4 linked regions of the Homo sapiens genome follow. The protein of the gene in region 2 interacts with the protein of the main gene of each other region in a pairwise test. Each region holds a gene or a part of one and is shown on either strand. Other genes may lie near its edges.

Region 1 (3,212 bases), on a different chromosome or scaffold from region 2:
ATATGAGGCAACAGTAAGTGGAGCTCCTTGTCATCATTCCAGCTCAGCTTTTGGAAGGTGGACACTTTAAGAGATAACAGATACCTTTTTCGGAATTCATATATTAGGGCTGGGTGGGGTGGCTCACGCCTGTAATCCCAGCCCTTTAGGAGGCTGAGCCAGGCAGATGGCTTAAGCTCAGGAGTTTGAGACCAGCCTGGGCAACAAGGTGAAACCTTGACTCTATCAAAAATACAACGAAAATTAGCCGGCTGTGGTGGTGTGCGTCTGTGGTCCCAGCTATGCTGAGGTAGGGCGATTGCTTGAGTGTGGGAGGTGGTTGTGCAAATGCACTCTCCAGTCTGAGTGACAGAATGAGACCCTGTCTCCAAAAAAAAAAAAAAGTTCACATATTAGATGGCAGAATATATATCTGCAAATTGTCAGTACTGTCATTATAAATTATTAGCCTTTGCACAATCCTGTGATTAGATGGGTAACATATAGCTGTTCTTGCTTCTATGTAACGTGAAGAATATACAAGCCATTCTAAATATACACATTTCTCTATTGTGAAAAATGTCTTATGGAAGTAAACCCAGAGGTCTCATTGAAGAGACTGGAGTCAATTTTCAGTTTCAGATTAACTAATAGCATTTCACTTCCTGGGATGATTTATAACAGTGGTGACTTGGAAATACTAAGCTGCACACTGCTGAGTGTTGTGGTTCTAACTCATGTTCTCCAGGAGGAGGACAGCAGTAATCAAGTCTTTTTTTTCCCTTTACCTTTGAAAGGAAGAATCCTGTAAGTACAATCCCAAGTATTCTGTTGCTAATGACACCGGCTTTGTGGACATCCCTAAGCAGGAGAAGGCCCTGATGAAGGCAGTTGCAACTGTGGGGCCCATTTCTGTTGCTATTGATGCAGGTCATGAGTCCTTCCTGTTCTATAAAGAAGGTAAGCATATTTTTCTTTGTAGAAATTGATGCAGAAAAAGAGTATCATGACATACGAGCATGATAGACTCTGGTTTGCAAGTAAAGTTCAGTGTAGATATTTAGGTGCTTAGCATCATAGTTGTTCATTCTGTACATGCAATATTTATACCTGATGTTTCCATTTGACATTATGTTGCGTATATCTCCATGAATATAAGTACTTCATAACTTTTTATAAATAGCTATATTTACTGTGTAGTTTAATATACTTAAAATATTCTGCAATTGTTGGATTTTTATAATTTTTCCAAAGATTTTTACTTCTATTATTAAATCCGAAAAGAGCCTTTTGATTCAAGGATTTTAGTGTTCTGTGCTATTTTTTTAGATTGATATCCTAGAGTAGAATTACAAGCTTACAAAGAGGGGTCTTTTTTTCCTCTAGGAAAGCTTTTTTTTAATGAAGGATTTATGCTGATTTCTATTTCTGCTAGTTGTAAATGAGAGCTTAAATCCCTGGCCTTCTTATTGTTGTTAAGTACTATCTGGAATGTGTGTCACTTCACTGAATTCAGAGATGCCTCATTCCCTGTGGGTGACAGGATGGGTTACTGTCATGTGTCCTCTGGAGCTTCTCACCCCAGCCCTCATTTTACCATCCCAGGCATTTATTTTGAGCCAGACTGTAGCAGTGAAGACATGGATCATGGTGTGCTGGTGGTTGGCTACGGATTTGAAAGCACAGAATCAGATAACAATAAATATTGGCTGGTGAAGAACAGGTATAAATTGCCAGAAATACTTACATTTGAAATTCAAAAGAGAATACTTATTTGCAAACAGTGTTTGGATACAGTTCCACATGCCCTTAGGCATACTTCTGAAATCCCCAGAAGTCTAAGTTGAACATATAATATTAATGTTTGATTATAAAAGTAAGAAACTGTCACAAATATCTTGGGAGTATGAATATAGTATTTGTTCCATTGTATAAAGGTGTATCTAAATCTGAACAGTTTTTAAATTCTGAGGCATATCTGGCTGCAAAGACATCCTATTGTTTTCCTGTCTCTGATCTGTAGTTCTGTGAAAGGTCACAGTTTGGAGGCTGGGATGGAAATTATGTCCAGGTTATGTCAAGAATTTTTTAAGGATAAACAGGAACATTGCCTGTCCTGATTCTTTCTGTTAAGTCTATGGCCTCTGGCACAGTGTTTAAGTTGGGTGTTCCTGTTAATAACCCTTTGGGCTTTATTCTTTCTCTGAAATGGAAAACCTGCTCTTTTTTCAGCTGGGGTGAAGAATGGGGCATGGGTGGCTACGTAAAGATGGCCAAAGACCGGAGAAACCATTGTGGAATTGCCTCAGCAGCCAGCTACCCCACTGTGTGAGCTGGTGGACGGTGATGAGGAAGGACTTGACTGGGGATGGCGCATGCATGGGAGGAATTCATCTTCAGTCTACCAGCCCCCGCTGTGTCGGATACACACTCGAATCATTGAAGATCCGAGTGTGATTTGAATTCTGTGATATTTTCACACTGGTAAATGTTACCTCTATTTTAATTACTGCTATAAATAGGTTTATATTATTGATTCACTTACTGACTTTGCATTTTCGTTTTTAAAAGGATGTATAAATTTTTACCTGTTTAAATAAAATTTAATTTCAAATGTAGTGGTGGGGCTTCTTTCTATTTTTGATGCACTGAATTTTTGTGTAATAAAGAACATAATTGGGCTCTAAGCCATAACTGCTGTGCCAGTGGCTCACTAGGAGGAAGAGTGGGTGGCCTTCTGGGTCTTCTAGTCACAGATGTACAGATCTCATGTCAGCTGCCCAGTGGCTATGTCTTAACCAATCCTTGATTGCAGCAAAATTTGAAAATGATCTATGAGGACAAAGGAAAATTGTTTGAATAAAGAAAAATATTCACTTTTTAGAAAAGTGAACATACATATATATAATTTTAATACTAGAAAAGGACTTTAGTGATCGTGTTTATTTCACCCAAAGTGGTTGCATCTCAGTCAAGTTACAGGGCAAAGGTCTCAGCCTGTTTCTGGAGCATCTTCGCCCACTGCTGGTGAAGGCCCTGTGGACACTTTGCAGTCAAGGTGGGTTAAGAACTAGTGCATTGCCAAGGCTGTTTGTTTTTGGGTCCTCAAGGGATGAGGAATAAACTTCAGGGTTTGAGGCTGGGGTTCAGAAGTGGTGCTCTGGCCTCAGAAAATAAAAGACAAGTGAGAGGCTAGAAATGACAATCTGTTGCCCTATTTAGAGCAAGCTACC
Region 2 (2,891 bases):
GGGAGAGCCACAGCTCCCTGGAAGGGCTGGTGTCTGGGGTCCCCCCTGCCTAAGGCCGCCTGCAGAAGCTCTTTGTTTCTGCAGTGTCGGGGCTGCCACCTCGGGGGTGGGGGCGAGGTCATCGAGTGGTGGAAAGGACAAGCCGGGTACCTGCCTTTGACTGCGCCCGAGCGTTCTGCCTGCATTTTGTGAGGGATTTTTTGTCCTTTTCTCACTGTGAGCAGGTGTTGCACTTACAGTTGTTTAAAAATACACTCAGTGTCCCCCATGGGTTCCAGGGGCCCGTGGCTGGCTTGGTTTCCTTCCCCAGGGGCCCCTGAGTTCAGTCCTGTCCGTCTCCAGCAGACACCGGCTTCCCAGGGGTGGGAGGCTCCCCTGAGTTCAGTCCTGTCTGTCTCCAGCAGACGCCGGCTCCCTGGGGGCGGGAGGCTCCGGGCCTCCCCAGAGGTGTTTCCATTCTGCTCCCATGTGGCCTCTTCATTTTGTCGTTGTCCCCTCCTCATATACACTCTCTTTCATTTTTAAACCATAATTACTGTAGACAAATTTAAAATACAAAAATGTTAAAAAGCAGCAAGAACAATCTTAATCTTTTTTTTTTTTTTTTGAGACCGTCCTGCTCTGTCCCCCCGGCTGGAGGGCAGTGGTGCAGTCACGTCTCACTGCAGCCTCAACCTCCTGGGCTCAAGCGATCCTCCCGCCTCGGCCTCCCAAAGTGTGAGCCGTGCATTCAGCCCAACCTTAATCTTCTCACCCAGAGCCACCAACATTAATATTTTGGCCGCCTTTTCTTCCAGTCTTCCCTTTTTTTTTTAAATAAGCTTTTATTTATTTTTCCTTTTCTTTTTTTAATAGTTGAGGTGGATTTTTTACCACCGTAACCTCATACACAAAGTACCACCATACTGTAGACCCTTCTAGGTCATGGCGATGTTCTCTGCGCCACCAGCCACACGTGGCCCCGAGTGTGTGGAACGCTTCTGGTGCAGCTGTGGCTCTGACGTTCGTTGAAATAGCCGCTGTGGCCCCTGGCTGTCCACTCTGGGCCTCTCCTGCTGCCTGGAGTGTGTGGTGCAGCCTTGGTCCCCACCTGCGCTCTGACAGCCTTCATGTCTGTCCCCTTCCAGCTGCTCCCGGTGTGACCGCGTCCTTCCCTGGCCGACCCGAAGGAAGCCTTCTGGTTGTCTGCCACTTCCTCCTGTTGGACTGCCTGAGAGAGGGGAAGAGAGAGACCTCGGACCTGCATGTCAAGATGGATTTTCCCCTTTTATCTCTGCCCTCCTCCACTCCCTTTTTGTAACTCCCTTACAGCCCCCAGACCCTTCTTGAAACGAGAGCCAGCAAGCTGAGCACAGACCAGCAGCGACCTCCCTTCCAGCCCCCAGAAAGCTCGGTCACTTGAGTGTTTTCTAGAATCCTGGGGTGCTCCCGGGCCGCTCTCAGAGAAGTGGCAGGTTTCACGTTCAGCCGTGTGGCGGATCGTGTGGCTTCCAAAGCCTTTTACAGCCCCCGCCCCCCATCCCGTGGTCTGTCTGCAGGAACTCTCCCGTCTGTGAGAAGCCTCTTTCCGAGTCGACCTCCCGGCCACCCCGGCCCTGTGCCTGCTCGGAAGAGCTCACTGCCAGCTGCGGCCTGGGCACCGCGGGCCATGTGTGTTTGCATGAGGAACTCTTTAGTGGCAGACACCTAAGAGACGGCTGCGGTCACCCCACGCCTCCGCGGCTCAGGAGCCGTCCTGGGTGCATAGGACCAGTTTCTGTGACTTTTCTCCAGTTGGGCATGTTGACAGACATGTTTCCCCTCCTCCCACCCTCATTTTCTGGTCCTCGCGACTGAGAGCCAGGGGCGACATCATGACCTTCTGTCCCGGCCGCCTTAGCCCCGGGCACAGGGAAGGCAGCTGGGCCGTTTCTGTCTGTGTCCCATCCTGCTGTCCTTCTGTCCTGGATGTTTCATGGGCCCGGGGCCCCCCAGGGAAGCTTACCCCTCCTGTGCTGGGTGGAGGCCACGGGACACCTCAGGTGCCACCCACCTTGGCCCTAAAACAGCCACCAGGAAAGCAGCCGGAGAGCCGGACAGCAGGCAGCCTGTCTGGGTTCCTGAGGCCTGGGGGTGGCAGACGAGCCCACGGCGCCGTGGTCCCAGCAGCAGGGTTGTCAGTCGGAGCATCCTGGGGCTCCCTGGCTCCTGGCCGTCTGTGAGGTAGGCGCAGTACCGTGTATCGTAGGTAGCAGTAGGAACGGGGGCCGCCGCGGCCCTGCAGCCGCTCATGGCGGTGAGGTGTGTGCCAAGCCCACCCGGGGTGCAGGGCGTGACGTGTGGGGAATAAATAGGCGTTGTGACCTCTGTCTGTCTTCGTGTTGACCTTGGCGCCACCGATACCCTCCAACCCCAAACCTCGAGAAAACCCCCGACGCGGAGTTTGTGGATCAGCTGGGCTGCTTGTGAGTGAATCCCCGCGACGCCGGAGCCGCACTTCTTGGGTCACGGGTCACGGGTCATGGGAGGTTTCGGACAGTCAGCCTCTACCCTCTGCTGTCTCCCTTCCCTCCGCCTCCGTCCCCAGCTGCATCCCGGTGTAGAGGGTCACCCCAGGGTGGGGTGAGATGCCTCGGTCCTCAGCAGAGAGTGATCGTATTGTCTGTTGCTTTGCTTTGCTTTTTTTTTTTTTTTGAGACTTTCACCCTAGATGCCCAGGCTGGAGTGCAATGGCGCAATCTCGGCTCACCTCAACCTCCACCTCCCGGGTTCAAGTGATTCTCCTGCGTCAGCCTTCCAAGTAGCTGGGATTACAGGCATGCACCACCACGCCCAGCTAATTTTTTGTATTTGTAGTAGAGACGAGGTTTCTCCATGTTGGTCAGGCTGGTCTCAAACTCCCAACCTCAGGT
Region 3 (3,861 bases), on a different chromosome or scaffold from region 2:
GGTACTCCATCTCTGGCTTTTCTGTTGCAGCCACACCAAGAGCCCAAACCTGGAGACCTGATTGAGATTTTCCGCCTTGGCTATGAGCACTGGGCCCTGTATATAGGAGATGGCTACGTGATCCATCTGGCTCCTCCAAGTAAGGACTGATGAATATATAATTTTCAAAATATTTGTTAAAAGGATAATGAGAGGGCCGGGCACGGTGGCTCATGCCTGTAATCCCAGCACTTTGAGAGGCCGAGGTGGGCAGATTACCTGAGGTCAGGAGTTCAAGACCAGACTGACCAACATGGAGAAACCCCATCTCTACTAAAAATACAAAATTAGCCAGGTGTGGTGGCACACACCTGTAATCCCAGCTACTCAGGAGGCTGAGGCAGGAGAATCACTTGATCCCCGGAGGCAGAGGTTGCAGTGAGCCGAGATCGTGCCATTGCACTCTAGCCTGGGCAACAAGAGCAAAACTTGATCTCAAAAAATAAAAAAATAAGTCAATGAGAGCCACTGAAAGACAGTTAAGCAAGGGAAACTTGAGTTAGGAGACACATTCTTCTTAGAGGATGCTTGATGAGATTGCACACACATATGTCCCATGAAGTAGACACAGTGCATTCCATAGGTCCTGGCAGAACGGAAGAAGAGACCGTTGCCTCCCGCAGCGAAGCTGGGCTGCTTCAGCATTGGGATCTCTCCAGCTCAAAGTCAGTTACCTTGGCATGCAGAATCTCATACGACTTAAACCAGCCAGGTTTCTTAGGTCTTAAAGAAGAAAGTTTCTCAAAAGGAACAATGTTTCTCCGTGCCAGATCCTTTGCCTCATATGTTTTCACACAACAAGGTGTCTTGATATTATATACTTAAGATTCCTTACTGGGAGCAATTCTCACAGGTTTATACATTTTTTTAAAATTCTCATACAAATACACAGTAAGCAATACCAATGTTTTATTTAACTCATTAATAACAGAAGCAGAAATATGACATACCCAGTTAAAAGCAGAATGAAGGAAACGTATGTATGGATAGCCAATGAAAGGGGAAAAAACGAACACAGAGGCCAGGCACAGTGGCTCACTCCTATAATCCCAGCACTTTGGGAGGCCAAGGCGGACGGATCACTTGAGGTCAGGAGTTCAAGACGAGCCTGGCCAACATGGTGAAACCCCGTCTCTATTAAAAATACAAAAATTAGCTGGGGGTGGTGGCAGGCATCTGTAATCCCAGCTACTCAGGAGGCTGAGGCAGGAGAATTGCTTGAACCTGGGAGACGGAGGTTGCAGTGAGCCGAGATCCTGAGACAGTGCCACTGCACTCCAGCCTAGGAGACAGAGGAAGACATTGTCTCAAAAAACAACAACAAAAATGCAGAAATGAGACAATGAGACTGCCAAATTAGGTAGGTGCAGGCAAGTTCATATCCTCTAGGGCAGTGCCACTACATAACTTCTCATGTTCTCTTTTCACCAAGCATTTACATTGTCACTGGACAAAAACCATTCCCATCACTATCAGGGCAAGACATTTGCATCTTATCAGTTTTCTCCAAGCCATCATCTCCCAGGCAGGATTGTAAAAATGTCTGAATTGATGGAAAATAGTAAATCAAGCCCACTTAATCCAGATGATCCTCAGGGACCTTGTAAGACAAAGCATGGCAATGAAGACACATGGTCCTTTTTGTGCCTAACTTGCAGTGTGTAAAGAGGCTTTTTTTTTTTTTTTAAGACAGAGTCTTGCTCTGTCACCGGGATGGAGTACAGTGGTGCAATCTCAGCTCACTGCAACCTCCGCCTCCCAGTTTCAAGCGATTCCCCTGCATCAGCCTCCCGAATAGCTGAGGCTACAGGCGCATGCCACCACAGCCAGCTAGTTTTTTGTATTTTAGTAGACATGGGGTTTCACCATGTTGGCCAGGATAGTCTCGATCTCCTGACCTCGTGATCCACCAGCCTCGGCCTCCCAAAGTGCTGGGATTACAGGCATGAGCCACCGCGCTCAGCCGTAAAGAGGCTTTTTAAAGACAATTTTTCTCTCTTTCCTTTTTTTTTTTTTTTTTCCTCTGAGACAGTGTCTTACTCTGCCATCCAGGCTGGTGTACAGTGATGTGATTACAGCTCACTGCAGTCTTTTTTTTTTTTTTGCATAAACATTCTGATTTAATAAATGGTATGAATATATATTTTGCATACTTTACAATAAAGAAAATTTTGAAAGAAAATTGATCTAAAACTGTTTCCCTCCAATTTCCATGGTAAAGTCAACTGCATACAGTTCTTTCCATGTATAAGTTTTACATTTGTATTTTCTACAATTAAATAAATCTAAATGTTAAATTTTAGCACATATATCCAATTATGTACAAAATTACAATGTCAATTTATAAGTCAAGCTTACTTAAAAATCATAAATTACAAAAAACACATTATGAATAATTTTGTTCTGGAAGTATCATACCAACTCATACGATCTAGGTGAACCCAAAAGTAAAAAACAATGATTATAAATTACAGTAGTGTCTGTAAAACCCTGTTATAAAGGAGGTATTCTTTTAAAATATGTACCTTATATATAAAAGCTCCTGACTCCTTTTAAGGACCAAAATTATTTTCAGTTTAACCATTTTCATTAAAATGCTTATTTAAAAGTATCGCCTTATAAAACTGAGTATATAAAATACAATGCAGCCCTTGATAACTAAGAATCTTTATAAATGCTAATTATTTAGTGACCTGTTTATCAAACTATTTCTGTGGATGGGGTGATTTTTTTTCTTCCTCTAAATTAAGTGGCCCTAGACTAATATATTTATATAGTTATTCTGTTTTCTTCCGTACTGTCATTTCACATCTCTATCAGTGAGTTCCTCAGGATTTGCCTTTATTTTACAACTATGAAAGTCTTCAATCCAATTCCCTGCTTCCACACATAGGACACAGAAAGCCTAAACTTTCCTTTTTTCTGGGCTCCAATGGGAAGCAGCATTTACAACGTGTCTGGCTTGGTAGGAGGAAGATTGTCAATTGAGGTATCATGTGTGTTCACCTGCCTATCTTGCCCTATTTCTTTGGTTGCTGTAAATTTCCTGCTTCTCAAATATCTGGATTTTTGGCTACCTATTTGGCTTCCGTCTTTGGTGTTTATATCTGTCTGGTTTTAGCAGGTCTCTCTGATTCCTGACTCACAGCTCCTCTCCTTCACTAATATTCAAGTGTGCTGCTTGCCTAACTCCTCATTCCTTCTCCTTGAATTTCACTTTACAATTGCACTAGGTTCTATCATCGTTGGCCACAGATTACCACAAAACATAATTTCTTAAATTCTGCACATTTCTAATGCTTCTAATCTTGGTTTCCTACAAGATCTAACACTAAGCTTGTGTTATCCTGATTACAGTGTATGTAAAACAATGCTTGTGGAAAACTAACCTAGGAGAAAGCTTATAGGGGAAACCTGATAATGAATTTTATTAAATTAATAACCCTTATAAAAATTTCAAATGTAATACTACCTGGATTTGAACTTCAATACTTTTCTTAAGTAAAATTCTTAACCACGGTAGAAGTTATGTTTGTTGATGTTCACTCATCTATACCCTCCATATTCTCAGCAAAGTTGGCATAAATCTGACCTGAATAAATAGGGTTATAACATTATCAGGCTTGTAAAATACTTTATCAAATCAATGCATCAGTTAAAGCAGGGGTCCCCAACCCTGGGCTGTGTGTGGCCTGTTAGGAATCGGGCCACACAATAGGTGAGCTGAGAGGCAGGTGAGTGAGCATTCTGCCTGAGCTCCGCCTCTTGTCAGATCAGTAGTAGCATTAGATTCTCATAGGAGTGCAAACCCCATTGGGAACT
Region 4 (3,861 bases), about 32 Mb from region 2:
ACACCCAGCTAATTTTTGTATTTTTCATAGAGACTGCTTTTGCTATGTTTCCCAGCCTGGTCTCAAACTTCTGGGCTCAAGCAATTCACCCACTTTGGCTTCCCAAAGTGCTTAGGATGACAGGCGTGGGCCACCATGCCCAACCCAGGATTAGCTTTTGAAAACAACGAGCTTTATTTTATAGCACCATCACAACTGGAAAATTAATCTTCTTTTTTTTTTTGAGACAGAGTCTCGCTCTGTCATCCAGGCTGGAGTGCAGTGGCACGATCTTGGCTTACTGCAACCTCTGCCTCCCGGGTTCAAGCAATTCTTCTGCCTCAGCCTCCCAAGTAGCTGGGACTAGCAGCGGCACACCACCACACCCAGCTAATTTTTGTATTGTTAGTACAGATGGGGTTTCACCATATTGGCCAGGCTGGTCTCAAACTCCTGACCTCGTGATCCGCCCACCTTGTATTCCCAAAGTGCTGGGATTACAGGCATGAATCACTGTGCCCAGCTGGAAAATTCATCTTCTTTTTGCCTTAAGTTGAAGGCAGCATAAGAGCAATCTGAAGCAGGTGATTTCGCTTTTCTGGGTCTGGTGTCCCCCTTCCAGGAAATGGGGATGAAGATCGCACCCATATGAAAGAGTTGCTATGAAGATTAAGAGTAAATGCGCTGATATCTGTCAGATGCTTAGCAGGGAGGCTGGAATGGAGTCAGGGCTACCCACTGCTGGTTACATCAATAAATAAAGGAGAAAACCAAATAATGCCACAAAATTCTGCCTAGATTTTATTGCCTGCTGAAGACTTGGAGCCCAAGGCCTGTTTTCTCTTAGGTAAAGGGGGGAGATTAACAAGGGTTGGAAGGTGGTAAAGATACCTCAGCACCAACCTAAGCCATCCTCTTTGAAGACTAGACAGAGACCTGGGAAGGGTAAACTTACACATTGTGTGAACCGTGGTCTTGCTTTGGGGCCACCTCTATCAGTCAGTTTCGGCTACAGCATGCTGTGGTAACAAACAGGTGTTGCTTTGGGGCCACCTCTATCAATCAGTTTCAGCTAGAGTATGCTGTGGTAACAAATAGTACCAAAAGTCTCAGGGGCTTATGACAACCAGGTTCACGTATACGTCCATCACAGGTTGACCAGTCACCAAAGAAAACTAGAGCAGTCACCACTGTGAACATTCAGGCCACCAGGCTAGAAGTGAAACAGAGCTTTGGCCTGGAGGCCTGAATGTTCCTGAATGTTTAAATGCCCCAGCCTGGAAGTGACAATGCACTTCTACTCACCGTTCCTTGGCCAGAATTAGTCACATGGCCCTACCCAACCTCCAGGGAGCCATCCATCTGAGCCTGGAAGGGGGAAGGAGAACACCAACGACATCAGGCATCACCCTGGCACCCCTCACCCTCTCCCCATGTGGCAGACAGTCTGCTGCCAAATTCTGCTCTAGGGAAGGCCAAATATAATAAGAACTGTCAGAGGCATTCGAGAACCATCAGGATGAACTTGTTGAATGGGAAGGATGTTCTGAGCTCTCCTGCAGGGGAACATGATTAGGGTCCAGGAAGGTGGGAAGTGGAGAAAAGTGAATCCAGAGACACACACACATTTTATCCACATGTGAACATTTCTGAAATCATTATGTGTCTTCTAATGGATGGGGACATTTCACGTGGTAGAGTTCCAAACATATTTACACATACACACACACACAGGGAAAACTATTACAAACTCAATTTTGAATCTTAAACTTGATGGTGCCTTAGAAATAAGTAATAATGGGCCAGGCATGGTGGCTCACATCTGTAATCCCAGCACTATGGGAGGCTGAGGCGGGCAGATCATCGGAGGTCAGGAGTTTGAGACCAGCCCAGCCAACATGGTGAAATCCCGTCTGTACTAAAAATACAAAAATTAGCCAGCAGTGGTAGTGCACACCTATAGTCCCGGTCCTTGGGAGGCTGAGGCAGGAGAATTGCTTGAACCTGGGAGATGGAGGTTGTAGTGAGCTGAGATCGCGCCACTGCACTCCAGCCTGGGTGACAGGGCAAGGCCCTGTCTCAAAAAAAGAAAGAAGGAAAGAAAGAAGAAAGAAGGAAAGAAAGAAAGAAAGAAAGAAAGAAAGAAAGAAAGAAAGAAAGAAAGAAAGAAAGAAAGAAAGAAAGAGAGAGAGAAAGAAAGAGGGGAGGGAGGGAGGGAGGGAGGAAAGAAAAAGAAATAAGTAATGTGGGGTATGAATCAGCACAGCTTCCCTGTACTGGATGGAGTATCAGGAGTGAGTGGATGTCAGCAGTAGCAGCAGGTGCCTGTCGGAGCTCTCAGGTGACTGAGAAGTTTTAGGGAGTATTCAGGGGAAGCTGAGACATTCATTGGTTCACCAGTGGAAATGGGGTCTGTTTTAACCTCATGACATCATGTGCAAGTGGGAGTGTGTCTGTGTTTTTCAGGGAATGAGTCCATAGCTTGCATCAGACCTCCATAGGGGTCCAGAACCAGGACTGCCATGTAGTTTGAGAAGATTGTACACTGCATAGAGGATGGTGCTGACTGATGGAGTGAGTAGGGGCTGGAATCCAGCTTGAGCTATGCTCTTCCAGCCTTGCGGCCTGCCATGAGGCCACATCATCCAAACCAAGGGGTCTCTATCTGACTTCCACAAAGAAATGATTAGGCCAGTGGCTCCATCTGGATCCTAAAAAATATTAAGAAATACACTGTTAAGTTTTTTTTTTCTTTCTCTTTTTCTCTGCTTCTTTCCCTCAGCTCCTGAGGAACCTGACCCATTTTACTATGGTGAGTGTTGGATTTGGGGATAGGGCTGGACTGGGGAGTAGCTGCAGGTGCTCACAGATCACTCCGGACATGGCTTCAGCTGTGGCCACACGATACGTGCTGGGCCACTGGCCACGGGACCATATATGTGGGTGTGGTTCACATCAGCTGAGTTCATGGAGGGCAGAACCAGATGGGGGAGTGGGGATGCCTCACACTCTCTCTGAGCCCCCTTCAGGTCTCACCGGGATCTGGGCTGGTGCCTTGGTGTCGCCAGAGAAGCAGATGAAGGAAAACCTTAGAAGCAATGACTCTGAGCCCAGGCTGCCTGGATTTGAATCCTGCCTTATCCACTCACTAGCTGTATGGCCTTGGGCAAGCAACTTTGCCTCTCTGGGCCCTTCTGTAAACAAGGGATAGTAATAGTTCCCACCTATGAGGACTGTGGGAAAGATACCTGACTGGTGGCATTAAATCTCCTCCATGGCACTGAAGCTCAAATAAGCTACCCCAGGCCTGGTAGATCGGGCTCCAGTTTCCCCTCTGAACACCCTCCTCTTGCCCCCACCCCACCCCTTTGCTCATTCATACTTTTTCCCTAGGTGTCAATTTCTCTCCCATCTCAGGACCTTTGCGTGTGCTATGATTCTGCAGTAATGCTTCTCCTTTGTACACGACCGGCTAAGGCTCCCCCTTATTCAGGCCTCAGATCAAACATAGACTACTCTACTGGGATAGGCCCTCCTGACTCCCTGGCAAGGAAGAGCCACACCATACTCAGCTGGTGTCGCATGACTTGTTTTTGAGGGGGATTGTTTCTTTAATGTTTTATCACAATACGAAAGTCAACTCCTTGCTGGTAGAGGCCTGGACCACTACTGGTACAGAGTGAGTGCTCCATAAATTCATATCTCAACAAATACTTAGCGGGCACAGGCTCTATTTCTGGCAATGTTCCAAGCAGCTGGAGACACTGCAATGAACCACACAGACAAGAATTCAAGAATGCAAGAATTCCTGCCCTCCTCCTGGACCTTCCACTCAATGGGAAAGGGACAGATACTCAAGAAAACAAAATATGAAAATTATAT

What was found. The genes of interacting proteins can lie anywhere in the genome.
Region 1: the proteins of SGTA (region 2) and CTSL interact in binary tests that used the Homo sapiens proteins (3 or more experiments, as listed by UniProt).
Region 3: the proteins of SGTA (region 2) and PLAAT4 interact in binary tests that used the Homo sapiens proteins (3 or more experiments, as listed by UniProt).
Region 4: the proteins of SGTA (region 2) and FXYD7 interact in binary tests that used the Homo sapiens proteins (3 or more experiments, as listed by UniProt).

Annotation. Positions count from the first base shown.
Region 1 is NC_000009.12:87,728,797-87,732,008, forward strand, and holds the end of CTSL (procathepsin L isoform 1 preproprotein), read left to right. Parts: coding exon 1-13; intron 14-776; coding exon 777-939; intron 940-1,584; coding exon 1,585-1,702; intron 1,703-2,211; coding exon 2,212-2,311; 3' UTR 2,312-2,673; downstream 2,674-3,212. UniProt on the Homo sapiens protein: Thiol protease important for the overall degradation of proteins in lysosomes. Plays a critical for normal cellular functions such as general protein turnover, antigen processing and bone remodeling.
Region 2 is NC_000019.10:2,754,170-2,757,060, reverse strand, and holds the end of SGTA (small glutamine-rich tetratricopeptide repeat-containing protein alpha), read left to right. Parts: intron 1-1,127; 3' UTR 1,128-2,346; downstream 2,347-2,891. UniProt on the Homo sapiens protein: Co-chaperone that binds misfolded and hydrophobic patches-containing client proteins in the cytosol. Mediates their targeting to the endoplasmic reticulum but also regulates their sorting to the proteasome when targeting fails.
Region 3 is NC_000011.10:63,539,486-63,543,346, forward strand, and holds part of PLAAT4 (phospholipase A and acyltransferase 4), read left to right. Parts: intron 1-30; coding exon 31-139; intron 140-3,861. UniProt on the Homo sapiens protein: Exhibits both phospholipase A1/2 and acyltransferase activities. Shows phospholipase A1 (PLA1) and A2 (PLA2), catalyzing the calcium-independent release of fatty acids from the sn-1 or sn-2 position of glycerophospholipids.
Region 4 is NC_000019.10:35,145,933-35,149,793, forward strand, and holds part of FXYD7 (FXYD domain-containing ion transport regulator 7), read left to right. Parts: intron 1-2,761; coding exon 2,762-2,791; intron 2,792-3,861. UniProt on the Homo sapiens protein: Associates with and regulates the activity of the sodium/potassium-transporting ATPase (NKA) which catalyzes the hydrolysis of ATP coupled with the exchange of Na(+) and K(+) ions across the plasma membrane.